Regions from separate parts of the Homo sapiens genome. Here region 1 is linked to region 2. Evidence: fine-mapped expression QTL. A gene starts in region 2. The other region holds a variant in brackets. All regions are shown on one strand. Distances are between the middles of the regions.

The links.
Region 1: its variant is fine-mapped to the expression of TSNARE1 in skeletal muscle (GTEx, PIP above 0.99).

Annotation. Positions count from the first base shown.
Region 1 is chr8:142,263,902-142,280,440 of GRCh38, reverse strand. It overlaps TSNARE1 (t-SNARE domain containing 1), which reads left to right. Exons shown (of 14, transcript NM_145003.5): 12 at 5,578-5,660. Among named protein-coding and RNA genes, the nearest start is that of LINC00051, 74 kb to the right of the region's middle. The variant A/G (reference allele first, on the strand shown) is at 9,023.
Region 2 is chr8:142,399,604-142,411,300 of GRCh38, reverse strand. TSNARE1 (t-SNARE domain containing 1) reads left to right here and starts at 8,119. Exons shown (of 14, transcript NM_145003.5): 1 at 8,119-8,197. RefSeq lists enhancers at 787-1,465, 7,214-7,989 and silencers at 7,221-7,270, 7,711-8,280, 8,421-8,560.

The sequences.
Region 1 (16,539 bases), 130 kb after region 2:
CGATGCGAGGCCTGGCCGCTGTGCACAGATGCAGGGCCTGTGATGACCTGTGACCCCGAACCTGGCTGCTCTCCCCAGGGTCTCTGCCCCCTGCTCAGCCTCTGGTGCCTTTCCAGGGTCCAGCAGCAGCAAAGCCATCTGCCAGCAGAGCTGCAGCCCCGAGCCGGCCGCGGCAGCCCTGCTGCTGGGTGCCGGGCCGGGCTCCACACCCCTGCGGCCGGGCCCCCACTCCCGCACCAAGACACGCAAGCCCAACTTCAGCCCCCAGGAGACGGAGGTGCTGGTGCAGAGGGTGCGGCGCCACTACCCGCTGCTGTTCGGGGCGCTGCGGGGCACACCTGCCCGAAAGCACCGCGTGTGGAGCCGCATCCTGCAGGCAGTGAACGCGCTGGGCTACTGCCGCCGCGACCTGGGGGACCTCAAGCACAAGTGGCGGGACCTGCGAGGTGCTGTGCGCAAGAAGCTGGCGGAGGGCGGCCCCGCCCCCGGCCTCCTCCTCACACCTGTGGAGCGCATGGTGGCAGAGACCTTTTCTGCCCACGGTCCCCAAGGCGAGGGCCAGACCACGGAGCCCCTGCCAAGTAAGTGGGCCTTCCCCACAGCCCGCCCCCCCGGACCACACTGCCCTGGGGCAAGCAGGGCCGGCGAGTGGGCTTGAGCCTTCTGCACCAGCTCCCAAGAGGGAGACCCTCCGAGGGAGACCCAGAGGCCCATGGAGATGGCCCGCCACCCTCCTGGCCCATCTCTTCTTTTAGGTGGGGAAACCAAGGGTCGGGGCCAGGGAGGGTTCTGCCTGTCTCGGTAGTGGAAGGGCTGCGGTTCCAGCTCAGGGTCCTCCCTGCATTGCCAAGCATTGTGCCATCAAGGGGCTCGACCATATACGCCACCTCAAGCCGTGCCCACCGGGTGTCCAGATGGGATGCTGGGTCCTAGTCACTGTAGAGAGGTGAGCGCTACCGTGGGGAGGCGGTCACAAGGTGGCCTCTGGGACCAGTGCCTGGTGAGGGGCAGAGACAAGGCCTGAGCTCCCCGACGTGCAGCAGCAGCGGGTGCAGCCCAGGGTGCCCTGGTGCCCTCCAAGGCCCCCATCTTGGCCTCTGCCGTTCCCGCCTGGTGTCGTGTGGCCGGAGGCCTGTTTGGCCCCGGGTCCCGGCCTGGCCTTCCTCTCCACGGGCAGCCCTCCCCTTCCAGATGCAGTCCAGCGGTGAGCACGGCTGTCCTTAGGCAGCCAGGTCTTCCAAACCAGTGGGTCCCAGCAGGGAGAAGTCCCTACTTTCCCATGCAGGGCAGCAGGGCCCAGCTGGCCCCAGGGTCTGAAGACAGGGGTGTCTGGGAAGAAGGAGGGCTTCCCTCCGCTCTCCCCCAGCCCCAGAGCCCCAGCGTACAGCTACCATGAGAAGGCAAGGCCAGCCAGCAGGTGGGAGGAGCCTCAGCCCATATGCACCTCCAGCCAGCTGGCCCTTGACATAGCTCCCAGGGAGCAGCAGGTGACCTGTCCATTCATTGGTCACGTTGAGGAGTTTGGGCAGAGCCAGGGAGGAGCCTGGGCCCCAGCTTGACTCTTCCCCGCCCCACGCTGTGCCTCACTCTGGCCTGCAGTGGCCTCCCCCTCCTTCTGCAGGCCCCTCCCTCTGGGCCCACTTGGAAGCCCCACACGTGGTGCTGTCCGGTGACTCTCAGCCTGTCAGGCACGCTGTGCCCCCTTCCGAGCCCACGGGCCCACTCCAGGGACCACCGGAAGCCAGGCGTTTCTGTCTGGTCAGGCCTCGTCTGCAGCCCGCAGCTGCCACTGGCTCCAAGGGTGACGCTGGCTCTGAGGGTGATGCTGGCTCCGTGCTTCCTCCTGCCGCCTCCGTGCCTCCTCCCACCGCACCTCCTCTCCTCCTCAAGACACCGTGCCAGGAGCTCCTTCGCCGTCCTCCGCATATGGTGGCACACCCTTCGAAGCAGAGCCCCGCTGGACCCTCCCCTTCCTGGGAGCTGCTGGAAGGACTTTGGGAACGAAGCCCCGGAAGCAGGACCAGCTCCTTGAGGGCCACAGAGTGGACAGAAGGACCCAGCCTCACAGGACAGGCAGGGGCTGGCCTCAAACGCCCCCAGTGGCAGCCATGGCAGAACTTGGAGCGCTGGGGCATCCTCAGCTGCTCCTGCTCACAGCGGTGCATGAGGCTGGGACCCATGGGCAGAGTGGGCCGGACTGGTTGGGAGACGCATGTAGACCCAGCCAACCCTGTGGCTGGGCTTGGACAAGGGGCCTGGGCTGTGGGCCTTGGGCGATGGGCCTGGGCACTAGGCCTTGTGGTGGGGCTTGGGGGATGGGCCTGGTCAGTGGGCCTCCTGATGGGGTGGGGCTGGAGGAGGATCTGGGTCCTCTCAGGCCTGTGCAGGCCAGGGATGGCTGGATCCACCCCCATTGAGGCCACATTGTCTCCTGAAGGGCAGATTCTTGCAGCCAAGGGTCCTATGGGCAGAGGCAGACCTGGTTTGGGGGTGCTTCATGGCAAGGATAGACATGTGGTGTGGGGCTGAGAAGGAGGGGCCTGGCAGGGGTGGCACTGGTGTGGCCCAGGTGCTTAGTCCTTTTCTGCAAGTCCTCAGCCCTGGAGGCTGCAGGAACTCAGGTTTGCTCACCCTGTGGTTCCCTGCCCTAGACTGAGACCCAGCCTCGACTTCTGTGACCCCTGGTGGATCAGCCACTCCAGGTCCCCAGGCCGCTGGGCTCCCCTGCAGCACGGGAGTCTTTGGTGCCTGTGAGCTGCTTTGAGTGGCCTGCCCTGCTGCTGACAGCAACTGACGTGTTGAATTCCCAAGCGAGAGTGCTTAGGACAGGGCCAGACTTCCTCTTGTGGGCGCAGAGGCAGGAAGTAGGAAAGTGGCTGCCAAGCCTGAGGACAGGGTGGGGGCATCCCAGCTGCAGGCCCAGTTGCCCCGAGCCGGCCATGCTTTCCGCTCTGCAGCGGCACTGCCTGGGGTTTGGGCAGGGCCAGGCCTGCAGGGCTGGTCACGGCTGTGGGGCTGGGGGCAGCGAGTTGACCCAGTGCAGGGGGGTCTCCCACAGGGGTCCCTGTGCCCTGAGGGCACTGGGCAGGCAGTTTCCTTTGAGGTGTGTGTGCTGCTCTGCGAGTGTCTGGGGAGGGCGGTCCCAAAGGCTGCTCTCTCTGGCCCCTGGAGGCCTCTGGCCTAGTGCTTGGGTATCCCTTGGACTCCTGGAGTCAGGGGATGTGCAAGGGGCCCCCGTGGAGCACCCCCTGTGTTGGGAGGAGCAGGTGCCCAGGGCCTGTGGCTCTGCAGGGCTCACCTCACAGACTGGGGGCCTCCAAGACCTGACAAAGCCACTGGGCCCAGGGCTGATGGCTGATGAGGTATTGGAGTGTCGCTCAGTACCACAGGTCCCACGCACCAAACCTGTCCTCACCCCACGAGCAACACGCGGCCGCACAGCACCGGGAGCAGCCCCCCTCCCCTTGTGCATCTCTGTGCACTGCGCCGGGGCAGGACATGGCGTGCCCACCTGGCAGCCTGGGCGCTGAGGGAGATGTTGCTGGCTGCGGAGCTGGGCAGTGGTTGTGTGAGGTGTCTTGAATGTGGGCAGTGCCATGCTGGCTAAGAATGCCCCTGGGACCGCCCTGGGTCTGTGGCCGGTGCATGCAGCCCTGGAGCAGCAGGACATCAGTCCCCATTCTGAGGGTGGGCCTCCAGGTCACACACTACGATCAGAGTCCCCAGGGCCAGGGCTAGGTGTAGAGCAGGATTGGGCACAGGCTGAGTCCAAGGGTGGGGTCCAGGGCTTGGCTGAGGCTGCGTGTGGTCACGGGGCAGAGAAAGTGTCCAGCCAGGGCACATGGCCTGTCCAGCACCACCTGTGTTAGCCCAGACCACCATGGCCTTCCTGTCTCTGCTGGCAAATGCTCTCCACTGTCCACATTCACCTCTCAGCAACAGAAGCGAGGCCAGGCTGTTACCACTGCAGGTGTAAGGTGGCTCCTTTGCACGTGAGCGGGGCATTGCCCGGGCCCAGGCTAGCGCCTCCTCCCTGGCAGGCTGGTCCCTCCTGAGTGGCAATTGTGGGGGGATCCGTCACACCTCTGGCCCCATCTTCCTTCCCTCTCCTCCTCCATTGGCTCAGAGGGTCGTGACCCTAATGTGGCAGGACATAGAGAGCAGAGTTCAGTTGGGGGCTGTCTGCAAGTGAGCAAAGGGGTGCTTTGCTCCAGGAGCGGCCGAGGCCGTCACCCATACCCGCTCTCTGGGCTTTGGCTCCTTGTGCAGGAGCCTGGCTCTCCCCTCCCTGGCTAGGGCAGGAGCCCCCAGATGCGGCGATCAGGGTGTGTCTGCGAGTGCCTGCGGCTCCACTAGGGCCCTGCGCTGGGGGCAAGGGTGGGGTGGAGCTGGTGACCAAGGGTTCAAGGATCCCTGTGAGGCCTGGGTGGGGGCTTCTGAAGGCAGGGCTCATGGGTTCCACCTCCTGCCCAGGGGGCTTGCAGAGATGGGGCCACAGTTCCCTGATGAGAGTAGGGAGTCCTTGCTGGGACGGTGGGGAGTGGCCTTGTCTTTCTGAGGACCCTCCTCCCTCAGAGCCAGTCGTGCCAGGCTGTGCCTGGCAGCAGTCCCTGTGGTTGTAATGGCCTCTCTATCCCAGGCCTTAAGACCCCTGAGGCTCAAGTCAGCTCAGGTCTGTGCCCTGGTAGGCACTGCAGGTGCACAGTTTGTTTAGATACTCCTGCCTCCCAAGCTCTTCTCCAGTTGCCTGATTGGAGGCAGGCCTTGCAAGGAACCTCCCTCCGGGAAGAAGGCTTGCCCGTGCTCGTGTTTGCTCGTGTTTGCATGTGGCTCTGTTGAGGACCCCGGCTGTGCCTGCGCTCCTGGTGCCCAGGTGGCATGTGTCCTTCCTTTGGGTGGAAGACAATGCTGAGCATGGAATCTTCCGGATCCCTGGGGCTGCCCCGGCCCTGGTCTGGTGTCTCCCGTGGGCCCTGCTGATGTGGCTTCCCTGGGTGGCACTGCTGCAGCCACCGAGCCCGGCTTTTCCCAGGTACCATCTCCCGTGATCCCCGCACGGCAGCACAACTTTCTGATCAGCTCCCTGTGCTTGAGTCGAGGGCCAGTGCGTGTGGCAAACCAGAGCCCTGTGCTTGCAGACCCGGTCTCCATCAGCCGCGTCGCAACTCCACAGACGTTAAGGCAGGGGCTTTGCCCCTTCAGAGGGGGCCGTGGCCACAGAGTGGAGGGGCTGGCCCAGGCAAGGTCATGACAGAGCAGGACTTGACCCCAGCCCTCACCTCCGCCTGCCACTCCCACCCTTTCCTGAGTGGACTCTTCCTGCCCCACCTGGTGTGGGCACTGAGGAGTCCCCTTCCCTGGGCCACCTCCAGGCCTCCGTTCTAATGTCATTGCTGCCCACTGCCCACACCACGCGGAGCCCTCGGCACGTCTGGCAGCCCAGCGCCCATCCCTGCAGCCTCTGCTCCTCTGCAGGCCCTGGGCTCAGGCTCCCTGGGCTTGCCTTTGGGGGGTGTCCTCAGGGCGGGGGCGGCTGGGCCTCCATCTGTAATTGCCTTCTGTTGTCTTGATTTGCAGATAGTATTGAAGCCAGCCTTGAGGCTGCGTCCTCGCATGCGGAGGCAGCCCGCCAGCTCCTGGCTGGAGCCAGCCGGCACCAAGTAAGTCCGTGTGAGGGCCACAGTGCCCGGCCGGCCCGGCCTCCGTCCCCTATCCTCCAACCCTCCCTCCGTCTGTCTGGAGGGGCCCAGGCCCTGCCCTGTGCCTGGGAGGGGCATGCCCACAGGCCTCCTCTGAACCAGTCTGCTGCCCGTGCCCTAGGGCTCTGGGAGTGGCGGGGTTGCGGCAGCAGTGGTCTGCGTGGTGCCCACAGCGGTCGGCACCGTCTCCTCTCTTGTATGCACCACGCCGCCCTCTCCCATGGATCCGGGGTGCAGCCGAGGGGAGGGCCCTTGGGGCCTTCCCGCTCCACCTCCTGTGCCAGATGCTGACATGCAGCTCAGTGTCCATACTGGGGCGGGGAACTGCAGAGGGGACTTTGTGGTTGGGGCAGGTCAGTGGCTCAGAGGGAACAAGAAAGCTCAGGCCTTTATTTTCTTGAAGTGGGACTTGGAGCTACCTTGAGGACTAGCCACTCACTGGGCCTTGTTGCTGACTTGTGGTCACCACAAGAAGACCTGACAGGTCAGGCTGGCTGGAGACTGTGGCCCAGCTGAGATGGAGGCCCAGCCGCTGTCTTCCCCTCACTGGCTCTGTCCCCATTGTGGCCTGGTGCTCCCCACTGGCCCTGACGGGCAGAGATGACCAGAGCCTGTTCCTCAAGGAGTCCCAGGGGCCAGGCAGGCTGGACATTAAGTCCAGCAAGGTGAGGGTGGCATGGGCCACGGTGGGAGCGCAGAAGAAGCCCCTGGGCCAGCTGGGGCCAGGAGAGCACACACTCTTGAGGGCGGAGCAGGGGCAGTATTGGCAGACGAGATGGTGCAGTGGGTGTGAGGCCAGGGTCCAGGAGCAGCCAGACGAGCCCAGGACATCACAGGCAGGTGTGACGAGAGAGGAGCCACATCCCCAGGACGCTGGGATATCACAGCTGTGCCCGCAGAGGGTCCTCAGTTGCCTCAGGGGTGCAAGAGGAAAAGGGGGCCGCAGCTGGAACCACGCAGGGGCCTGACTGGGTGGAGAATGAGGGAAAGGCCAGGGCTGCCTTGAGCTTCCCCAGTGGGACCCAGCCCGGGCACCCCCACTGTGGGAGTGTGTGGTAACGGGGAGGCTGATCCCAGTTTGGGCCTCCCCATTTCTGTCGGGGGCCATGAGACTCAGAAGGTTCAGGTCACCAAGGGTCAGTCCCTGTTGACAGCTGGTGAACGCCAGGCCGGGAGACAAGACCTGGGAGAGGCTGTGCCAAGGTCACCTGCAGGATGAGGTCAGAGGCAAGGCTGGGGCTGGGTCTCCTGGCGCCAGCTCTGGGCTGTTTGGCCTCAGCCCTTGGCCCAGCACCTCTAGTCGCTGAGGGCAGCTAGGCCCAGGGGCCTCCAGGAGGCAGAAGGTGATGGGCAGAAGGTGACGCCTGGTGACGGGCAAGGTGGACTCGCTGGAAACTCAGGGCCACACCACGCAGAAGGCCTTGTTTCAAGAGGAAAGCCAGCCAGCAAGATGACCCCTCCTGAGCACCCTGGGATCACCTGGTCAGAAGCAGCGCTGATGCCTGGGACGGCAGGAGGACGATGGGACAGTGAGGAAGAGGAGGAGGTGAAGGAGGAGGAGGAAAGGAGGGCAGTGGCAACTGGGCCAGCCACCTGTGCCATGGACGCCGTGCCGCATTCCCAGTGAGCCTGTGGGCTCAGTCCTGGCAGAGCAGGCACCGCCCCCCCGACACACTGCAGAGGAGGTGGGCAAGGCTCAGGCCCAGGAGGCGGCCGTGAAGTCACCTCTGCATAGACTGTCCCACTCCTGTTCCCGAGGGGGTCCACCAGGGAGTATCAGGGAGGGATGAGGCATCTGTGAAGTTGCCTCTGCATAGAATGTCCTGCTCCCACCTGCCTGCGAGGGGCCTTCCCCACGGTGTCAGGAGGGTTGAGGCATCTGTGAAGTTGCCTCTGCATAGAATGTCCTGTTCCCGCCTGCGAGGGGCCCTCCCCACGGTGTGTCAGGAGGGACCAGGTGTCTGTGAAGTCGCCTCTGCGTAGAATGTCCTGCTCCTACCTGCAAGGGGCCCTCCCCACGGTGTGTCAGGAGGGATGAGGCCTCTGTGAAGTCGCCTCTGCATAGAATGTCCTGCTCCCGCTTGCGAGGGGCCTCTAGATGGGCGGGTGGATGGATGGAAGGAGGAAGGTGTAGATGGGTGGGTGGATGGAAGGAGGAAGGTGTAGACGGGTGGGTGGATGGAAGGAAGGTGTAGACAGGTGGGTAGATGGAAGGAGGAAGCTGTAGACGGGTGGTGGATGGATGGAAGAAGGAAGGTGTAGACGGGCAGTTGGATGGGTGGATGGAAGGAGGAAGGTGTAGACAGGCGGGTGGATAGGTGGATGGAAGGAGGAAGGTGTAGATGGGCGGGTGGATGGATGGAAGGAGGAAGGTGTAGACGGGTGGGTGGATGGAAAGAGGAAGGTGTAGACGGGCGGGTGGATGGGTAGATGGAGGAAGGTGTAGATGGGCGGGTGGCTAGGTGGAAGGAGGAAGGTGTAGACGGGCAGGTGGATGGGTAGATGGAAGGAGGAAGGAGTAGATGGGTGAGTGGCTGGGTGGATGGACAGACAGCATGGATAAATGGGTGAGTAGACGGATGGATGGATGAATAGAAGGAAGAGGAGGTTGGAAGGGGTTGGCTGGACAGTGATGAACAGACAGGTGGACAGATGAGTGGATGTGGTGGGCGTGTCTATGTGGAGGAATAGACACTTGGGTAGCAGGATGGCGGGTAGACCAGAGGGCAGGCGGACGAGCGGATGGAGCACAGGGGAGTCGGTGGGAGGATGAATACAAGTGGTGCTGTGATGAGTGGGCACGCAGGCTTTGCATTTGGACAGGCTGTGGCTTCAGTCCCAGCACTACTAGAGTAAATGTGCCCACCTCTCTGGGTCTGTTTCCTCATCTCTCAAACGGGTGCAACTCCCACTGCAGACGGAGCATCGTGAGACCCATACAGCTCCAGGTGCAGAGGCCTCACATGGGCACTCTCCCTGCACCCTGCTCACCCTCCAGATCACTGGGTTTTGGGTGTGCAGGCTGACATTTTCCTGTCTCCCTCTGTTAGCTGATGAGGAGGACGAGACCCCCAGCTGCTTGTGGCTGCCCCTGAGGTCCCTGGAAGGGCCCAGCCTGCCTGAACCTGACCCCCTGGACTTACGAGGAGTCTTCCACGCACCCACCTCCTCACCCTCCCCACCTGCTTCCCCAGCCTCCACCCCACCAGCAACCACACTCATGGGGGCCTTCCAGCCTTCCCCGCCCTCTTCGGCGCCAGCACCTCCCTTGCCCTCCAGGAGGACCCCAGCGGCAGCATCTGAAACGTCCGCATTTGAGCAGC[A/G]GCTGCTGGACTCCCACCGGCAGCAGGGCGCCCTGCTGTCCTCCTGGGCCCAGCAGCAGAGCACACTCATGGCCCAGCAAAACCTGCTGCTGCAGCGGCTGGCCGAGCAGAGCCAGCGTCTGGCCGATGGCGTGGAGGCCCTCAACCGGACCCTCGAGAGGCTGGTGGAAGCACGCCCTACCCGGGAAGCCTCACCCTCACTCCAGGACGGTAGTCCTGCCAGTGGAGTGGCCCAGGGGCCTGCTGGAGGCTCCCAGGACAGCCCCAAGGGCACCCACTCGGGGCTCGAGGTCTTCTCAGGGATGATCTTGAAGGTGGAGGAGGAGATATAGGGCTGGTCGGGGGTGCTGGCAGAGCCAAAGGGCAGGAGCAGGGCCTCCAGTCTTTCCCCTGCTGAGTCCAGGCAGGGGAGAGGTGGCAGTGACTGGGTCTCCAGGGCACCGGGACAACTCCAGTCCAGGAGACCGGAAGGATGAGAGGATGTGGGCTGTCTACCTGTGATGTCGCGTCCTTGCCATTGCCTGTAGAGGGTGGTGACCTGCAGGGAAAGGCTGCAGAGAGCCGACCTGTGGGACTCAGTGGACCAGGTCTACTCAGGGATGATGCTGTTGGAGGCTCCAACCCCATGTGGCAGCAGCTGCGAAGTCTGCAGCCCAGCGTCCCTGGAAGCAGGGGAGGTGGGGAAGATGCACTGAGGGGCCCCCTGCTCACTGGAACTCTGGAAAGGGTGGCTCAGCCAGGCTCTAAAAAGGTCCCAAGCGTGATCTGGTGTGACTCCTGAAAGCCCCTGTCCCTTTGGTGGGCATGCACACTTGGAGGGCAGGGCTCCTCTGCCCTACGTGGTTCTGGCCCAGGGGAACCACATCCCATATGCCTGGAATAATTTCTATCCAATTTTCTGTTATAAATACATAAATATATATATATATATATATATGCCTATATATTACTTGGTACTGTATGGGGCTGGGATGACATTTTGTACCTGTAGATTTTTCTTGCAAAAAGTATTTTTTTACATAAGCATAAAATGACAAAGCAGGCAGCAGTGCGGCTGCTGACGAGCACGTGAGTTGGAGCCTGCTTCTCGGGCGTGGCAGGCACCGCTGCTTTCAGCCTCCCTGCGGGGGCCTGGGCACTTCCCTGCGTCTTCAGATCCTTCTTCCTCCATTACCTCCTTTGACTCTTGGGAGATCCCTTGGCGGGGCTGCCACATCTCCAGTCCCTGCGCGGCAGGGCACAGTCTGCAGCCCCCCAGCCTAGGCAGCCGTCGGGAGCGAGCAGGAGCGGGAGGTGGGACCAGCCCGGGCCTTGGCTAGTCTGGGGCCTCTGCCTGGCTCCCATGGCCCAAAGCCTGTCCCAGGAGCAAGATGCTGGCTGACTGGCTTGAGTGGGAGGCATGCTGGTCCCAGGAGCTTCCGGGGAAGCTCTGGCACAGCCGAGAGTCAAAAGACTACAGCATCCCTGAGAGCAGGGAGAGGGGCCTTTTCCTCGTTTTGCGTTTTCCCCTGGAGCCAGCAATGTGTCAGTAACTTGTCTATGAAAGAACCTGAGGTGTAGCCACATGTCCAGCTGCCTTCTGCGCACGCCTGGCCTCCCTCCAGGCTACCCCTTCTATGGGTGCGCATGGTGCTGCTGTTGGTTCTGGGCGGGGCCTCCACTCTGATGGTTCCACCCTGGGAAAGCTGGCCTTCCATCCTGCCAAACCAGATGACCTCAGTCCCACCACCTCCAGGAAGCCTCTGTAGATCTTCATTCTGGGTTCTTGTCCATTAAAAATACCCACCATGGCCTGGGCACAGTGGCTCATGCCTGTAATCACAGCACTTTGGGAGGCTGAGGCAGGAAGATCACTTGAGGCCAGGAGTTCGAGACCAGCCTGGACAGCATAGCAAAACCTTGCTTCTACAGAAAATAAAGCTTAATAAATAAAGATACCCAGCACGGCTGACAGTGGCCTCGTATGGCTGTGTGTGTTTTCTGTCTTGCGTTACAGTCTTAACCTGGACACAGCCTCTACTCTGGTGCTAGCTGAGCCCCAACCTTCACCCCACACTGTGTCCTGACTGCAGTTGCACATTGAGCCTTGACCCTGAGCCCTGATCCTGCTCCTGCACTATGTCCTGACCCCAGTTACACATGGAGCATTGATCCTGGTCACTGACTTAGCCCTGATCCTGGTGACAGACTTGGCCCTGATTCTGATCACACACTGAGCCTGATCCTAGTTACACACTAAGCTCTGGCCCCAGCCCTGACCCTGGTCAGTCCAGGCATCTTCTGGGAGTATCCTCTGGGCTGAGCCCTTACTAAGTGCTGAGGATACAGAAACAACCAAGGCAAACTTGAGGCCTCTTCTTCCAGAGCTTAGCGTGTGCTACAGAAAACGTATACTAAGCAAGTCAGTACATATTTGATGAAAGTTATTTTGTGTATCAGTTAAAAATCAGTGTAACTGCATTTGGTAGGAAACAGAGAATAGGGTGTCTTAGAGTAGATAGGCGTCATGGCCCCTACGTCACCGACATTGATGACCTGGAGCTGGCAAGGCAGGGCCACAGTCCTCAGAGGTCCAGGTGTCTTTCTGCTCCCTTCTCTGCCGTGGTCCTCATGGCCCAGGATGGCTGCAGGCCTCCCCCCATCACGCTTGTGTTTCAGGTAGCAGGGTGTAGGGAAGGAATGGAGGAAGGTCACACACCCTCCCTTGAAGGAGATCTCTGCCTGCATCTCAGCCCACTGACTGGGAGTTAGTCAGATGCCCACATTTCGTTGCATTAGAAGCTGGAAAACACGGCTTCAGCCCCAAATCAGGATTTTGTTACTAAGACGGAAGGGACTGGATGCTGGGGTAGGCAGCGTGCAATCTGCCAAGCTGGGGCGTTGACAGAGCTGGGATTGCACAGTCTAGAGTGTCGGGGGCTTCCCTGCAGGACGGACAGCAGAGGCCTCCAAGGCGATTTGGCAGTAATCACTGCAGCCAGCGAGGGGCAGGAAGATCCAGAAGTACCTCAGGCAGAGAAGACCAAGGGCCAAGCTAGGAGAGCCGGCTTCACCTCTGCATTGTGGCTGAGGAGCAGGGACTCGAGAACTTAGGGGCAGAATGGGTAAGTCCTGGTCCATGTGTCTCCACAGTGCACACGTGCCCTTTGCACTCTAGGACAGTTTCCTGAGAGCTGCTCAGATGCCGAGAGGCCAGGCAGGAGCATGGCCAGGACAGCAGATGGCTGTCCATGAAGCTCCATCATCCAGTGGGGGCATGGAATGGCAGGTGGCACGCAGGGAGGGCAGAGGCCATGCCTGGCCCTGAGGGCAAGGGTGTTTCTGGATGAAAGGAGAACCAGGAGGGTCCAGGAGTGTTGCCCTCAGATCTGGGCCTGGAAACCCCTTCTCTTGGATGTGGGCCAGGGGTGGCCTGAGGTTCGCCAGGAAGGAGACTGTGGTCTTGGCTTCACCAGGAACCTGTCAGGATCAGAGCTTTTGAGGAAGGAATGCTCTTAGCAAGCGTGTGAGAGAGGCACCCGGGAAGACCTTGAGGGTTGCCGACCTATCCCAGATGGGATTTCAGTGGGATTCGTATCCACACTGCTCACCTTGGACACTGTGCTTCTTGCATTCCATCCCCCAGGCAGCCCAAATGTTTACCAGGAGAGATTAGGAGGATGGTGGGTCTGTGATGAGAAATAGGATGTGGCATTCTGTGGCGGAGCTTGCCTGCAGGGCCTTCCAAGGTGTGTTTTAGAAAGAGGCCGGGGGGAGTGGCAGGGATGGTTCCTGTCAGAGCTAGAGAGCCCGGGTCCCCTCACTAGGTCCCCCATTTTACAGACAGACTGAGAGCCCAGGGTGGTATTGGAGGGGTGGTGTTGAAGCTGCAGGGTCATGTCCAGGTTCACAGAGAGTGCTAGAGGCAGGCCTTGAACCAGGTGTCTGGATTCCAAGTTCATGCCCTTTCCCTACGCAGTGCTGCATTCCAGGTGAGTGAGGACAGTTTTCAGGTGCCTCATCCATCTGGCTCAAATGAGCACGGCCAGCTTGCCCACCCTAGAGGATCTCAGGAAATGAGGAAGGTTCTTGCCCTGAGCCTGAATAAGCACCAGGTCCACCTGTGGATCCTGGATCCAAGAAGAAGGTTCTGGAGAAAAGATCCCCTAGTCAGGCCTTTGGGATACCCACAAAATAAGAAGAATCTTTTGGGCCTCCAGTTGGAAATCACTTGGTCTGTAATGGGGAAAGCCGTTGAGGGAAAACCAGGAGGAATATCCAACAAGAGCAAAAATATCAAGTTTAGACCCCAAAAGATTTTAGCTGTTGCAATTAATCAGACATATAATATGATTTCTGTGAAATATTTTTAAAAATAAAAAGATGAAATCACAAAAATGAGCAATAAGATTCTAAAAAGTGATTAGGCCGATCTGTGAAATATCAGTATGGCTTTTAGAAATGAAGAACTTTGTGGATGGGTTAAGCAACATACTGGACATAGATGAAGTTAGTAATAGCAAACTCGAAGATTTCTAAAGAAATAATGTTGCAAAGAGAGGTAAGAAAATAGAAACTACGACAGATGAAGAGATGGGGAGAGTAGAACCAGAGATGCAACATATGTCGTCTTGGAGTCCCGGAAGAGGAGGATCAGTGAAATGGAGGAAAGCAGTGTGTGAAGAGGTCGTTGATGTGATGTGTGATTCCACAGACACAGGAAGCACGAGCATACTGAACACATACATGAAATACCTTCCTGGGCACATCATGGGTGAACTGTGGAACAGCACAGAGAAAGGGAAAGCCTCAAGCAATTTGAAAGAAGGGAGAAGTGATGACAAATTTGCCGACATTTCACATTACATTGGCAGCAGAGGAAGCCAGAAAATGGTAGTATCTACAAAGTATTGAGAGAAAGTCGCTGTCAACTTAGAATTCTGCAACTGACAAGACTACCTTTCAAGATTAAAGGCAAAATACAGACATTCTATCCAAATAAAAACTGCGAGGGCTTACCACCAACAGGCCTTCATGAAAAGGGGTTTCCAAAAAATGGACTTCAAGGTGAAGGACTGGAATCCCAGAAAGAGTATGTGTAATGCAAGAAGAATAGTGAACCAAGAAATTGGTAAATGTGTAAGTAAATCCAAATCCTCATTAAGGTTTTAAAAAGTCCATAATTACTAGAATGTCTAATTTGTGGAATAGATTTTTTACAAAGGATGGAACTACTGGACAATGATAGTATATTAAAGGTGAAGAATTGTCCAAATATTCTGAGATCCTTGTATTTGCAGGGGAGTTAAATATTGATTAATTTTAGCCTGTGCTAGTAACTGTACATCATAAAAAAGCTCAAGGGTTCCTTCATCAAAATTGGAAACTTCTGTTCTGCAAGAGATCCTGTTAAGGGAATGAAAAGAGAAGCCAGTGACTAGTAGAATATATTTGCAAATCACATGTCTGATGAAGGATGTATCCAGAATATATAAAAAGCTCTCTAATTTCAACTGAAAGAAAACAATTCCATCAGAAAGTGCACAACAATTTGATCCGACACTCACCAAAGTAGATATATGGGTAGCAAGTAGGCTCATGAAAAGATGCCCCACAGCAGTAGCCATGAGGGAAATACACATTAAGCCCACACCGCGATGCCACTGCCTGCCGCTGAAGTGACCAAGAGGCACGGGGGTGAGGAGAAATGGCTCGCTCATGCACTGCTGTTGGGCATGTCAAATGTTACAGCCACTCTGAAAAACAGTTTTGTAGTTTCTTCAACATGTAAACATAACACTTACTATACAACACAACAGTTTCACTCCTGGGCATTTATCCTAGAGAAAGAAAAACTCATGTTCACACCAACACTTGCACACAGATGTTCATCGTGTCTTTATCTGCCATGGCCCCAAAGTGGAAAAGCCCTGCTGTGCCTCTGCAGGTGAGCAGGTGAACAGACTGCCACGGCCACACAGTGGAGTTCTACCCAGGAACAAAAGGAGCCCACTCGGAAATGCCAGCAACTCAGACGGTTCTTAAGGCATTGTGCTTAATGAAAAAGCCAGTCTCGAAAAGGCCATGCTTTGTGACTCCATTTCTGTAACATTCTCAAAAGGGCGAGATCACAGGGATGGAGGGCAGAGCGGTGGCTGGTTGTCAAGGGTTAGGGAAGTGGAGTGGGGTAGGGTGCAGTTGTAAAAGGCTGCAGGAGAGCCTTGTGGTGGTGGGACAGTTTTGTATTTTGAACATGGTGCTGGTGACATGAATCTACATATGTGATAAAATTTCATAGAACTACACACACACACAAACTGAGTAGAAAGTTAATAAGAAACTGAAGACTAAGGTAACCTAAGAGTATTAGAGTATATAACTTCCAAATCAGTAAAAATGGAATAAGAATACAATTAAACAAAAACCTATGTTGAATAGAAAGGAGAAGGCAAAAAATGCAACAAAAAGAAAAGGAGAAGCAGATAACACAGAAGAAAAATGCAGGACAGGGCGAGAACACAAAGAAGCATTTGGAACTGTCCAGTGAGCAAAATAAATGCAGACAGATTAAAAGGGCTCATCAGAGTTAAGGACTGTCAGATTGGAGGAAAAAATAACACCTTTACTATTGACAAGAGAGGCACTCCAACATAGGACCAAAGGGGCATTGGAAGGAAAGGTGTGAAGATTTGCCAGTCAAAAGCTATGCAAAAGAGAGCTTAAGTAGCAATGTTAATTTTAGACAAAATGGACTTTAAGACAAAAAGTATATATTAAGGATACACTGGAGTCACTCCAGAATGGGTTCAGCTCATCGGGAGGATGAAAAATCCTAAACCCTTCTACACTTAATAAAATACATAAAGCAAAAGTGGGTAGAATTACAGAAGGAAATCAATGAATCTATCAGGACAGCGGAAGGTTTCAGCACGTTGTTTTAGAGATTGATGGGGAGTGTCAGCAGGAAACCTAAAAATTTGAACACCAGCGCTGAACTTCACGGATGCTTACAGAACCCTCTGCTACACAAATAGAGGGCACTCATTTTCTCAGGTACAACCGGAATATTTCCAGATTTTGACCATGGACTAGGTCATAAAGCAAGAGTCAAAACATTTCAAAAGATCAGTAATGTGTAGAACACTTCAATCACTAGAAAATGCAGTTAGAAAAATGCAGCCATTAGATATTGGTGGCAAAAAATAAAAAGGTCATTGTATGTTTGGAAATTTTAAAACAGTTCTACATAACTCAGAGGTCAAAGAAGAAATCATTAAGGGATATGAAGTTAATAGCTAGGTACAAAGACATGATTGGATACTATTGAAAATACTGCATATCAAAATTTGTGGGAGACTTCAATGAAACTTAGTAGCCTTCAATGCTTATACTACCAAAGAAAGCTGAAAATTAAAATAGACATTAAAAAGACTTTTTTTAAGTAAAGGAACAACAGAATGAACCCAAAGAAATAGAAGGAAGAAACTTGTAAAGACAGGAGCAGAGTTAACTTTAACTTTAACTTGTTAAAATTTTAA
Region 2 (11,697 bases):
AAGGTTGGGCCTGCAGAGCTTAGAGGAGGCCCCAGAGCTGGGCCGAGGGGTCAGGAAGGCTTCTTGGAGCAGGTGGTAGAGAGTGTGCAGAGGTGCAACCCTAAAGGATGAGCGGGTTACCCTCCAGGCAGAGGCCCAGGCTGTGCCAACACAGGAGTTGGACGCAGGCGTGTGGAGAACCAGGAGCTCTGGCTGCTGTAGTCAGAGGCCTGGGACACTGGGCAGGTGCTTGGATGTAAGCCTGGCATGACGCATGGCGCCAGAAGGCCTCAAGCAGGCAGTTTCCCAGGGAGACCAGGTGTGTAAGCCAAGCAGAGAGGGGCACTGCTGGGCAGGGCCTGGGGCCGGGCACACCCCGGCAACCTCGAGGACCCCTTCTGCTTCCATCAACAACCTAGGAGGTGCCCCCCCCACCCCCCACAGTTGCTTTCAGCCCACACACAGCACTGTCGTGAGCTTTGGCAGCACGCTTGCTGGGGAGGGAGCCCCTGGAAGTACAAACTGTTGTGATTTTGCAAAACGCTGTTCTCCCTGATTTTTACCTTAGCTCGTTAGCATCTCATTACCGTGTTTCCCTGTGTGCAGAAGTCGGGGTGTTTTGGGTTTCTGAGTGGGCATGGAGGCTGATTTCAGCACAGCGGAGTCAACTCCAGCTTCTGTGAGTATAAGAATGTTTGTGACTGTATGTGAGTATCTGGGAGTGCATTTGTGTGCAGATGTGAAGAGAGGTGGGGGCCAAGGGTGGGAGGAGGTGTGGGCAAGTCCCTACATGCCATGTCTGGAATAGGAGTTGGGGCAGAAAGTGATGCAGGAGGTGGATGTGGCAACCTTCTCCAGCAGCCATGTTAGAGCCACATTGCTCCTGCCTGGCAAACTCCTACTCATCCTTCAACACCCAGCCCAAATGCTCCTTCTCTGGGAAACCTCTCCAACATCCTGGACAGAACGTAGTGTTTCCTCATATCACCTTCTAACAACAGTCTCATGGTCCAGCGGTGACCCCTTTGGCTGGTCTGCCACCTCTTCAACTTCCGAGATACCCTGAGGGCATCATGCTGTGTTCCTTAGCTCCCATGCCTGGCTTTGGTGCTTGGGCATCCATGCAAGATGTCAATGGCAAATGCTCACCCACACACAATGCATGAGCTCGCATGTTCCAGGGCTTCCAGAGGGCCAGGCCCTGTGCTCAGCACTGTTCCAGGTTTCTCTTGCATCGACTCACTCAAGCCTCAGGTTGGCTCCACGGAGCTGGGAACTTTTTGGTGTGCATAGCACCGATGAGGAGGCTGATGCGCTGGGCCACCCAGCAGGCACACGGTGGAGCCAGGGGTCAAACCACACTCCCTGCCTCCAGGCTGAAAGGGCCCCAGGGATTGTCTGGGAGGCTGGAGCTTCTGGTGGCTCAGCTGGAGGGAGCACAGAGCAGGGAGGAGGGATATGAAGTGCGTCTGTCCCTAAACCGACCCTCATTACCGAGAGAATAATACGTGCCTTTGCAGAGCAGCTCATAGGATAACAGGTGGGCTGTGTCAGTGAAATGCGTCCCAGCATGGGGCTTCTTCAGCCCCTGCCCCTCAAGGGACGGCTTGGCTCAGCTCCTTGAAGAGCTGCAGAGGCAGGGCCAGGAGGGAGAGCGCTTGCCCTCGGCCCTGCCCTGAGCGCTCACCAGGTCTCCCCCAGGGGAACCCAAAGGTCAGGGCGCAGTCTTCTGCTCTTTCTGCCCCCAGCCTGGGGGATGAGGGCATGTCTTGTTCCTCCACAGGCCCAGGGCTGCCCACTCGAGGTGGCAGAGGTGGCCGCCTTCTCCCTCCCTGACACTCAAATGATCCCCCTGTCATTTGCTCGTCTTCCTCATCCATGCACAAGCTCCCCATTCATCCCCCTCTCCGCAATAGGATGAGGCCTCTCTCCTGGGACACGATGCCCCTTCCTCAAGCGCCCCAAGTGGACGTCTAGAATGCAGGAAGGGGAGGCTGAGGGCCTGCAGCAGGCGGCCCCTTCCCCTCTCTCCTTCTCTTTTCACTCAACCCTTGTCCACTCAACTCAGTGACTCCCAGGACAAGAACGAGAGCCTTGGGACCTGTTCCTTCCCTCTTGTGGCTCCGAGGCTGCTGGGCGGCCCTGCCTCCTGGCCACAGGCAGATGTACAGGGAAGGATGGCAGGGCGTGCTGCACCCACTCCCGCACGGGGCCAGCCACATGGGCCTTAGACGACAAGAGGGGTCGGAAGTGTGGCTGCATCAGGGGGAGAATAGGGGAGCATTCAGGGAGCAGCTGCCGCCACAGTCACCATCGTGTTCATGCTTATGCCTCTCATCGCGGGCTCTCACACGTGGGTACATGCCCTCAGCCCCACTCACCAGTGGCTCCTGATGGTTTCTAAGGTGTCCACCAAGAAGCCAGGTGCCAGCGTGCACGTCTAGGATGCTCACTGCCCAGCGTGCATGTCTAGGATGCTCACTGCCCAGCGTGAAGTGTCCTGGTCTCATTTGGGTACCAGGTCTAAATCCAAACAGCGGACACACAAGAACCACACATTCAGAACCAAAACGTGTGCTGTTGACTGTAAAAGAAGTGGTGAATGATAGCATTTTCAAAGTCCCTTCAGAGGCTGGGTGCAGTGGCTCATGCCTATAATCCCAGCACTTTGGAAAGCTGAGCCAGGTGAATCGCTTGAGTCCAGGAGTTTGAGACCAGCCTGGGCAACATGGCGAAACCCTGTCTCAAATAAAAAAACACAAAATACAAACAAAATGAGCTGTAGTCCCAGCTACTAGGGAGGATGAGATGAGAGGATTGCTTGAGCCTGGGAGGTCAGGGCTGCAGTGAGCTGATTGCACCACCGCACTCCAGCTGGGCAACACAGCAAGACCCTGTGTCTAAAAAAAAAAAAAAAAAAAATGGAAGCAGAACAAAATAAAGTCCCCTCGGCTCACTGGTTACTCCACAGGGCTATGACTTCGTGGCTGTTACAGGCTGAATGTGTGGAGAGGGGAGGTGCCATGACGAGGAGGCAGAGACCAAGCCTGGGGTGAGGTGACATGGGCTGGGCCCAGAGTGGCCCGGTGCTGGTCTGAGACCCTGTACGTGTCCCTCCCCTACCAGGTTTCTCACCTGTGGAATGAGGAGGAGCCAGGAGATGGGCCGTCTGAACCCTCCCGACCCCAAGCAGCTGGAGGGGTCAGGATGTGTCCACAGAGGGGAGTGGGACGTGGACGTTGCTGGCTCCTCTCTCGCCATGGTACTCACAGCTCACCCCCCAGAAACGCTACCCCTCAAGACTTGCCCATTTTGGTCTCCTCATTGATGGGCTTTCCCTGATCCCCATCCCCCCGGGTGCCCCCACGCCCCTGATCGCTCCTGCAGGGCCTCAGCACAGGTTCCCAGCACACACGTGTGTGATTTGCAGGTTGTCGACATTGGCCTGCCTGCCAGGTGGTGCACAGGGCTGTGTCCTGATGCAGAGACTGCCAGGTAACCCCAACCTTCCCTTTTTACTCAGTGCAAGAGTCCAGCTCTTAGCTGAGAACACAGCCCCTGGGGTGGAACATGTCCTAGCCTCCTCTGCAGCTCGAAGTACCCGAGACCCAGCTGTGGCCAAGGGGGGCTGTAAGCAGAGGTGAGGTGTGCAAAATCCAGGCAGCATCCCTAAAAGCACGGGTTGCAAGGTTGGGAAGAGTATGCCAATGTTTCCTCCCTGCTGGCTGAAAGCAGACATGATGGCTGGAGCTTCAACAGCCGTCTGGTACCGTGAGGCAAAAGGCCTATTTGGGGATTGATGGGGCAACCAGACTAAGGGGGCCTGGGGTCCTGATGATTGTGAGGCCACCTTTCCAGTCCTACTGCCTACCTGGACATAAAAATATCACATTAAAAGCAACCGTCAATCAAGCCACTGTTATTTGGGTTGTTCTGTCATCAGCAACCAAATCAAACTGGATGCTATCCCCAGATCCTAGCATGTTGCGCGGCGTGGAAGTAAAGCTTGTTCAATGAGTGAAAGAGGAGACAGGCTTTGCCGATGAGATGAACTGTGGCAGGAAAGAAACGGGCAGCTGTGCCCAGCAGCAGGCCTAGCAGTGGCTGTGGAATCTGGGGGGACTGCACCCTTGCAGGGCGGAGACTCCTCCTGTCCCCACGTCCCCACCTGCTGATCTGAGGCTCATGGATGCCAGGAGGGGGTCGGGGAGTGGGAAGCATTCCCAGGAAGGGTGGCAAGTGTCCTTTCCTGGACGATGCATCAGCAAGAACAGCACTCCACATGCTTGTTGATGGATTTTCTATTCTTTTACTTCATTTTTCTTTTTGTCACTCCTGCTCCATGTTAAACACCTTGGGAGGCTGTTATGCACATCAGGATGGAGTTGGTTTCTAAGAGCCTGGTCTCTGATGACGCAGACTGAGTCTTGAATGGTCAGACCACTGTCCTGTGCTGGGGCTGTGTCAGGCCCTTCCCAGAGACTCCCACGTGTCCCCTCATGACACTGCCTCTGCGTGGGTGACAAGGGAATGGACCGCCACCCTCCCACACACCCCATGCCCTTGGTTCTGCCCAGCCCTTTACCAACCTCACTCTTGGGCAGGCCTCATGACCGCTCTGCCCCTGCATTGCGGCTTTGGTGAACAAGCCTAGAGAAGGTGTGCCTCAGGCTGAGCATCACACAGCAAGACAGGGCTTAGTCTGGTGTTAGGACCAAAGTTTCTTCTCCTCCTCGTCTTTTTATTTTTTAAGATGTGGTTGGAAGCCCGGGCTGCATGGGGACATGTGGAAAACAGGCACCTGAGAGTGTGGCTCCCGCGCCCTCATGCCTCACAAGCTCCTCCAGGCTGTTCCAGGTGTGGGGCACTGTGTGTTCCAGGTGTGTGGGGCCATGACGCGCCCTTGGGGCCTGCCCGCAAGGAGCCATCGTTGTTGAGGGGCAGGACGCAGCTAATAGAACGATGTCCCACTCCCGTGAGCTTAGGAGCCCAAATCAGCTACAATGGAAGTGGCACTGGCTTCAGTTACAGAAAACCTGACGAAATCCAATGAGGCAGACCCATAAAGGGAGCAGGGGCTTGTTCTCCCCATGGTGATGAGTCTGACGGTGCCATTGGGGCACCAAGGCAGCTGCTCACATCCTCAGCTTGGGACCCTGCCCCTTGCTGGCCACATGGCTGCTGTCCTCGGGATGCCGTGCCCACACTTCAGGCTGGAGCCAGGAGAAAGGAAGACTGTCAGTGAGGTGGGTGGCCACAGCTGCCCCTTCCAAAGGACCAGGAGGCTCGATTGTGCCTCCTGCAGTCATCCCCTGGGCAAACAGTGTCACAGCTGGCCCAGCTGCTGGTGAGGCTGGCTACATTGATGCCTTGAACAAAACTGGGGTTCTGTTGCTAAGGGACAAAGGAGGCCTGGGTAATAGTGAGGGCGGCTCGGCGGGGTTGGTGGGTGCAGGAATCAAGGACTGAGTGCCCGTGGGCTTTGCTGGAGCAGAAGCTGTGCTGGGAGCAGAGCAGGAGGTGCACAGGCCTTCTCCTGTCCAGGCAGGGGCTGCAGGGGAGCAAGGGATGGTCTCCTGAGCAGGTGACATTGAAGCCAGGCAGCAGAGGGTAGAGAGGAAGGGTGGGAGGGTGGGGAAACTCACGACAAAGCCATAGGTTGACACTGACCTGGAAATTCAGCTTAAACCCTGAGAAGTCCATGCTACTATTCAGAGAGGGAGCATTTCTGAGGTTGGCTTTAGTGGGTGCTGCCTCAACGTTCCTTCCGAAGGCCTTGGAACCACCCCCTAACCTTGTTGCCCACATTCCCTCTGGGACCTGGAATGGTAGATCCAATTTGGGGGGTGCCAGCTGAGGACCAGGCAACCCCCACCCCCTTAGGTAACAGAACTCAGCGTCCTGGGGCCAATCCCACTTATTCACCCTGTTGGTCTCACTGGTTGGCCAAGGGGTGGGACCAGAGTTCTTCCCAGGGAGTCCTGCTTCTCTGGAGGAAGGAGGGAGCCCAGAGCTGCCCGAGGTCATGTGATGACCTCTTCCAGGGAGGGGCAGAGATGAGGGAAGGGAGGGGAGCCCCGGCCCTAGGCCCAGGCAGCTATTGGCTATTTCCCTCATCCCTTCCTGAGGACCCCTTAGCATCCTCCTCCCCCTCCCCATCGGCTCAGCCTGAGGGAGTGGGCTCCTGGCTCTTCCACGGAGAGGTTTACCTTCCCTGACTTGCTGTGGGGCACTCAGGCGGGCTCATCCCAGATTTCGGAGGAGCCAACAGGTACGGAGCCCCTCCTCTGGTGGTTCCTACCCACGCTAGACCATTCCCCCTGCAGTGTCCAGGCACAGAAACAGCCCCATATACGCCTTGTATGGTCAAGAAAGCGGCTCCTGGAGGTGGTCTGCCCTGGGAGGAAAGGGCTTCACTTTCCCCTCCTTTGCACACCTGAACACGGAGCTGTCAGAGGAGGCTGAGTGAGGTGGCGGCCAGACAGACAGCGCCAGCCACGGAAGGGGAGGTGGGCACCGTGCCAGGCACCCGGCATCCTCAGTCCAGACTGACAGCTCTCAGACAGGCATTGGTCCTGGCGAACCTTCCCCTTCAAGTGGAAGCTGGGGGGTCAGCAGTCATGGGCATCCTCCCTGGTTAGGAGCCGGCTTCCCTGCACTCTAGCTGTCCTAGCCGAAGAGTGAAGCCCTGTCCAAATCATGGCGAGGCTGCAAGACAGGCACACACTACTGCCTCCTGGGAGCCCAGGGGAGACTGAAATACACCAAGGCAAGGAGCGTGGGTGGGCCCAGGACAGGCCGGCCTGAGCACCAGCCCAGGAATGCTGGTGGGCATGTGCCCCTCTTCCCTCCCACCCATGTGTGCACACATTTGTGCCATATACTACCGTTCCCATGTTTGCGCCTGGGCACACACTTGTGCCAGCATACACACACTTGTGCACTTGCACCTGGTGTCCAGGAACACTCCCTCAGCTCACAGACGTGCGCTGTGTGCACACAGTACCACGCAGTGTCCACGAGCACACTTTTGTGTTCGTGTTCACAGAACCCGTGTGCGCACACATGCACAGTCCTGGGCTGCAGAGAACCCCAGCCAGCGGGGCGGTGGGGGAAGGGGAGGGCACGCCTCCTTCCCAGGAGCTCAGCAAGGCTGTCCGCGGGAGCCCAGGGCTGCCCGCAGGGCTTTGGCGTAGGCCTCGCAAGCACAGCAAGCATCACAGAGTGAGGGCGGCGGGAGAACCTCCGCTTGCCGGAGAAGGTGCAGCGGACTCATCACTCTTGCTCTCCTGCCTTGGGTGTGACTCTTGGTTCACCTCTGGGGAAACAGGCTGAAAGGTGACCCTGGCGGCCCAAGGACACACACCCATTGTCCGCAGGTTCCTCCCAGGTGTCTTCTCCAGCAGGTCACCGGGAGAGCGAGGGGCTGGAGTCTTTCGGGAGCTCAGTGCCCGCAGGCAGAGCAGGGAAAGGGAGGCGCCCCAGGCCCCTGCGGAAGGAGGTCCCAGGAGGGTCTCCGCAAGGGGCTCCCTACTCTGCACTTCAGCTCCTCCAGGGAGGGGCTGCGACCTCGGGCAAAGGTCCCTCAGATGTCTTGAGACTCAGTTTCCTCGTTGGTGACACTGGGAGTCCGGAGTCCCCGCGGGGCCTGCCAGCCCCCGGCCGAGCACGGCCCCACGCGGAGCCCGTGCAGCCTGACTTGGGGCCCAACGCCCGTCCCCGCAGCGCGAGACGCGCAGGTGCCCGGCCCTGCCCTGGCCGAGACCCGCCGCCTGCGCAGCCCCGCAGAAGCTCCAGCTTTGGCCCGTGTGAGGTCCGGGCTCGGCCTGGGCTGGGCGGAGCCCGCTCCCGAAGCGCCTCAGCGCCGGGCCGCCGCCCTCCACGTGACCTCCACCTTCGCCGTCATCCCCATATGCAAAACGGGGAAACGGGGAAACGGAGGCCCACCACCAGGCAAGTGAGGACAGCCGACTCGCGCGCGCACCCGCAGAGGCCTCTTGGCCCAGCCGACCGCCGTCCGCGCCGCTTCCGGCTCCGCGCCGGGGCCTCTGGGGCGGGTAGTCCCCGCGCGCGTCCGGGACCGGCGGCCATTGGCTGGTGCGGGAGGGGGCGCGCACGCCGGCGGCGGGAGGGGCCGTCACGTGATGTTTGGGTGCCCGCCCCGCCCGCCTCGCCCGCCGTGAGCGCCCGGAGCGGTCCGCGAGCCACCGAGGCCCAGGTGAGGCGGCGGCGGTGGGGCTGGGGCCTGGCCGGGGCCGGGCGTGGGGCGGCGAGGGCGAGGCGGCCGGGGACCAGCGCGGGGCCCGGAGCCCGGCGGGGGCCGCGGCGTGGCGTGGTATGGGGCTTGCGGGAGGCCGGGCGGGGGGCGGGGCCGCGCCGGTGGGGAGGGGAGGGGGCGGGACCGTGCCGGGGGTGGACCCCAGGGGCGCCAGGGACCCTGAGCCGCAGCCCCGCGAGAGCGCCGCATTTCGGGGACCGGCCCGCGGGCACATGAGCCCCTCGGCGGGTCCTCGCGCGCTGTTCAGACCCCAGGTCGGTGGGCTCTGGGCCGGGCAGCCGGTGCCTGCGCCTGGAGGTCAGTGCCGTCCCGGGGAGCGCCCCAGCGCCTACTTGCTGGGTGCAAGGGTTGGTGCCCTGCAGCTCAACGAGCGGAGCCCGCCTTCGAGCCTGAGCTGGGGACCCCGTTCCTGTGTGCTTGCCTCTCCATGCCTTTCTGTCCCTTCTCCAAGTTGTAAGAAGGTGCTTCCTGGGTACTGGGGCCTGCGACATCCCCACCAGGGACTTTCAGGTGATGTTGATCTGTGCTGCCCCCGCAGAAACTCTCCAGGGACCTCGTGTTTGTTGCCTCATGGCGCACTCCTCCTGCTCTGGAAGCTCTGCCATGTCCAGTGTGGTAGCCCCTAGGCATGTGTGGCTGTTTACATTGTCCTTAACGTGAAGGATTCAGGTCCTCCGTGCCAGTGGTCACATGTCCGACACTCAGTAGCCACACGTGTCTGGTGGCGGCTGTGTGGGGCAGCGCGGGTAGGGAACACTGCTTATCACAGGAAGTTCTGTGAGCGGTGTGGTGCGGCTCAAAATGGGCCTCGCGCGTGCTGCTCCGCCGGTGCTTCTCCGCCCCTCATCCTGCCAGGTGCCTTTCCAGCCACACCTGGCGCCCTTTCTTTCCTCTGCTGCACACTTGCCTCTTCTTTTAGTTCCTGGCTCGCTCCTGGCTTGGGGGCAGCTCCGCTTCCGGTATGTCTGAGCTCACCTTTCTGACCGCTCTCCCTACAGTATTTCTTGTTTGTCATTGTCACTCATCTGCTTGTTTTCTGTTTTATCTTTAGTGCCTGTGAGACAGGGGTGGGGATTGTTGCTTAGGATACTCCCAGTGTGGACACAGTATTGAGTTGAAAGAAAGCTGAAGTTTGTTAGTACTGGAGTGCTTCCCCCGACTGAACCGCTGCTTTCATACCGTTCGACCCCATACATCACAGGACCGCAGCAGAAATCTGGTAGAACAAATGTTTGGACACAGCAGCACAGGCCGTGAATGCAGGTGGCTGTGGGAGGCTGGCAAATCCAAGACGACTTCCTGGAGGAGGTTGAGTTTTGGCTGGGTCACCTCTGTTTCTCTCCTCCTCTGCTGGCCTGGCCCCATGAACATCTGGCAGCCTCTGGCTGCTCTGACTCTATCCAGGAACCTTCCCTGGACACTTCCCCTGAGTCTGGCCTTCTGTAGATGCTGGGTCAAGAGCCTAGACCTAGGCACTCAGTCTAGGGGCTCATGGGCAGCCAGGTGTCCCTAAGTCTCTTCCACAGCTCCTCATGGCCTGCAGAGCGAGGTCCTGGGTTTGGCTCCTGCCAGCAGCTCCTGCCACATCTTCAGTCCCTGCTTTATGTCCCTGACAGTGCAGTCATTTTTCCTGCATAGTCTGTGGCTTTTCTCACTGGTGTGCCTGTCGATGCAGAGCCTTCTGCTTGGAATGCCCTGGCACTCCCGTGTTTGTCTCTCCTGTGTGCCTGGGAGCCTCTGTGGCATAGACCTCTGCTGTGTCACCCTTGTGTCCTGAGCACCCCACCCAGCACCGAGAGTAGGATAAGCACCTAGCAGGTTTTGATGAATAAATACACTGGACACGTAAGACTTTGAGGAGAATGTGGTGAGAAGTACAGCTAGGTCACGATGCTGGAGCTTGAGATGGAATCAGGGAGTCACCTTCCAGGTGGGCGGAGTTGGGGAGTCACCTTCCAGGTGGGGAGGAAAGACAAACATGCCTCGACCATGGCTGTACCAAGCCATTCGCGACACGGCGTGGGTGCATCCTTCCACGGTCCTGAAAAGGGGTGGTGAGTGTCTGCAGGTGGTGACACTAATGATACTGGTCACAGCACCTCCTGGTGCCAGGTGACCAGGGAACTGTGTTCATTACTCAGTTTACTCTCACAGTCACCCTGGGAGGAGGGTCTGTTGTCCCCATTTCCCAGATGGAGAGACTGAGACACAGAATGGTGATCTTGCCGTGAGTCCCTCAACTGTCGGGTTCTAGGACGTCATTTGTTCAGCCCAGACAGACACATTTCTTCCGAGGTTGTTGGGCGTTTTATCCCTCTGAGTGGTGTTTGGCCATAAGAACAGTTGGCTAGGGGTTAGGCTGTCTTCTTCTTATTTTTATTTTTTGACACGGAGTCCTGCCTCAGCCTCCCAAGTAGCTGGGACTACAGGTGCCTGCCACCACACCTGGCTAATTTTTTGTATTTTTAGTAGAGACGGGGTTTCATCATGTTGGCCAGGATGGTCTTGATTTCTTGACCTTGTGATCCACCCACCTCGGCCTCCCAAAGTGCTGGGATTACAGGCATGAGCCACCGTGCCCGGCCCTTTTAATTTTTTTTGAGAAGCTTCCCTCTTGTTGCCCAGGCTGGAGGGCGTTGGTGCAATCTTGGTTCACTGCAACCTCTGCCTCCTGGGTTCAAGTGATTTTCCTGCCTCAGCCTTCCGAGTAGCTGGGATTACAGGGGCCTGCCACCACGCCTGGCTAATGTTTTGTATTTTAAATAGAGACGGGGTTTCACCATGTTGGCTAGGCTGGACTCAAACTACTGACCTTTAGGTGATCAACCTGCCTCAGCCTCCCAAAGTGCTGGGATTACAGGCGTGAGCCACTGTGCCCAGCCACTTCTTCTTTTTGGCCAGGCTAGACTCAAGCTCCTGACCTTCAGGTGATCAACCTGCCTGAGCCACACACTGTAATCCCAGGTGTGAGCCACCGTGCCCAGCCACCTCTTTTTTTTTTTTTGAGATAGGCGTGTCTCACTGTGTTGCCCAGTTGCCCAGGCTGGTCTTGAACTCCTGGCCTTAAGCCATCCTCTGGCCTCAGCCTCCCGGAGTGCTGGGATTCCCAGCGTGAGTCATGGCGTCTGGCTCCAGGCTTTTTGTTTTAATGCACACGGGCGTTTCTGTGGCTACTGGGTTTGTTTGGATGGTGTTACTTGCTACAAGTAGACTTTGACCTTGTGGCCCAGTCCAGCTGTCATTCATTGTGTTCTTTAAAGTCTGATTTGTGCATCGTCCATAGTAGCAGACTCCTGAGCAGCCCTCCTCTCAGATTCCTCTGCTTTCTGCTGGGATGCTCAGCCCTGTCTAAACATTTGTGGCATCTGTGTGTGGAGCAGTGGTGACCAAAAGACTAAAGGCAAGAAGGAGTGAGTGAGAGAGTTGGAGAGCTCATGGCC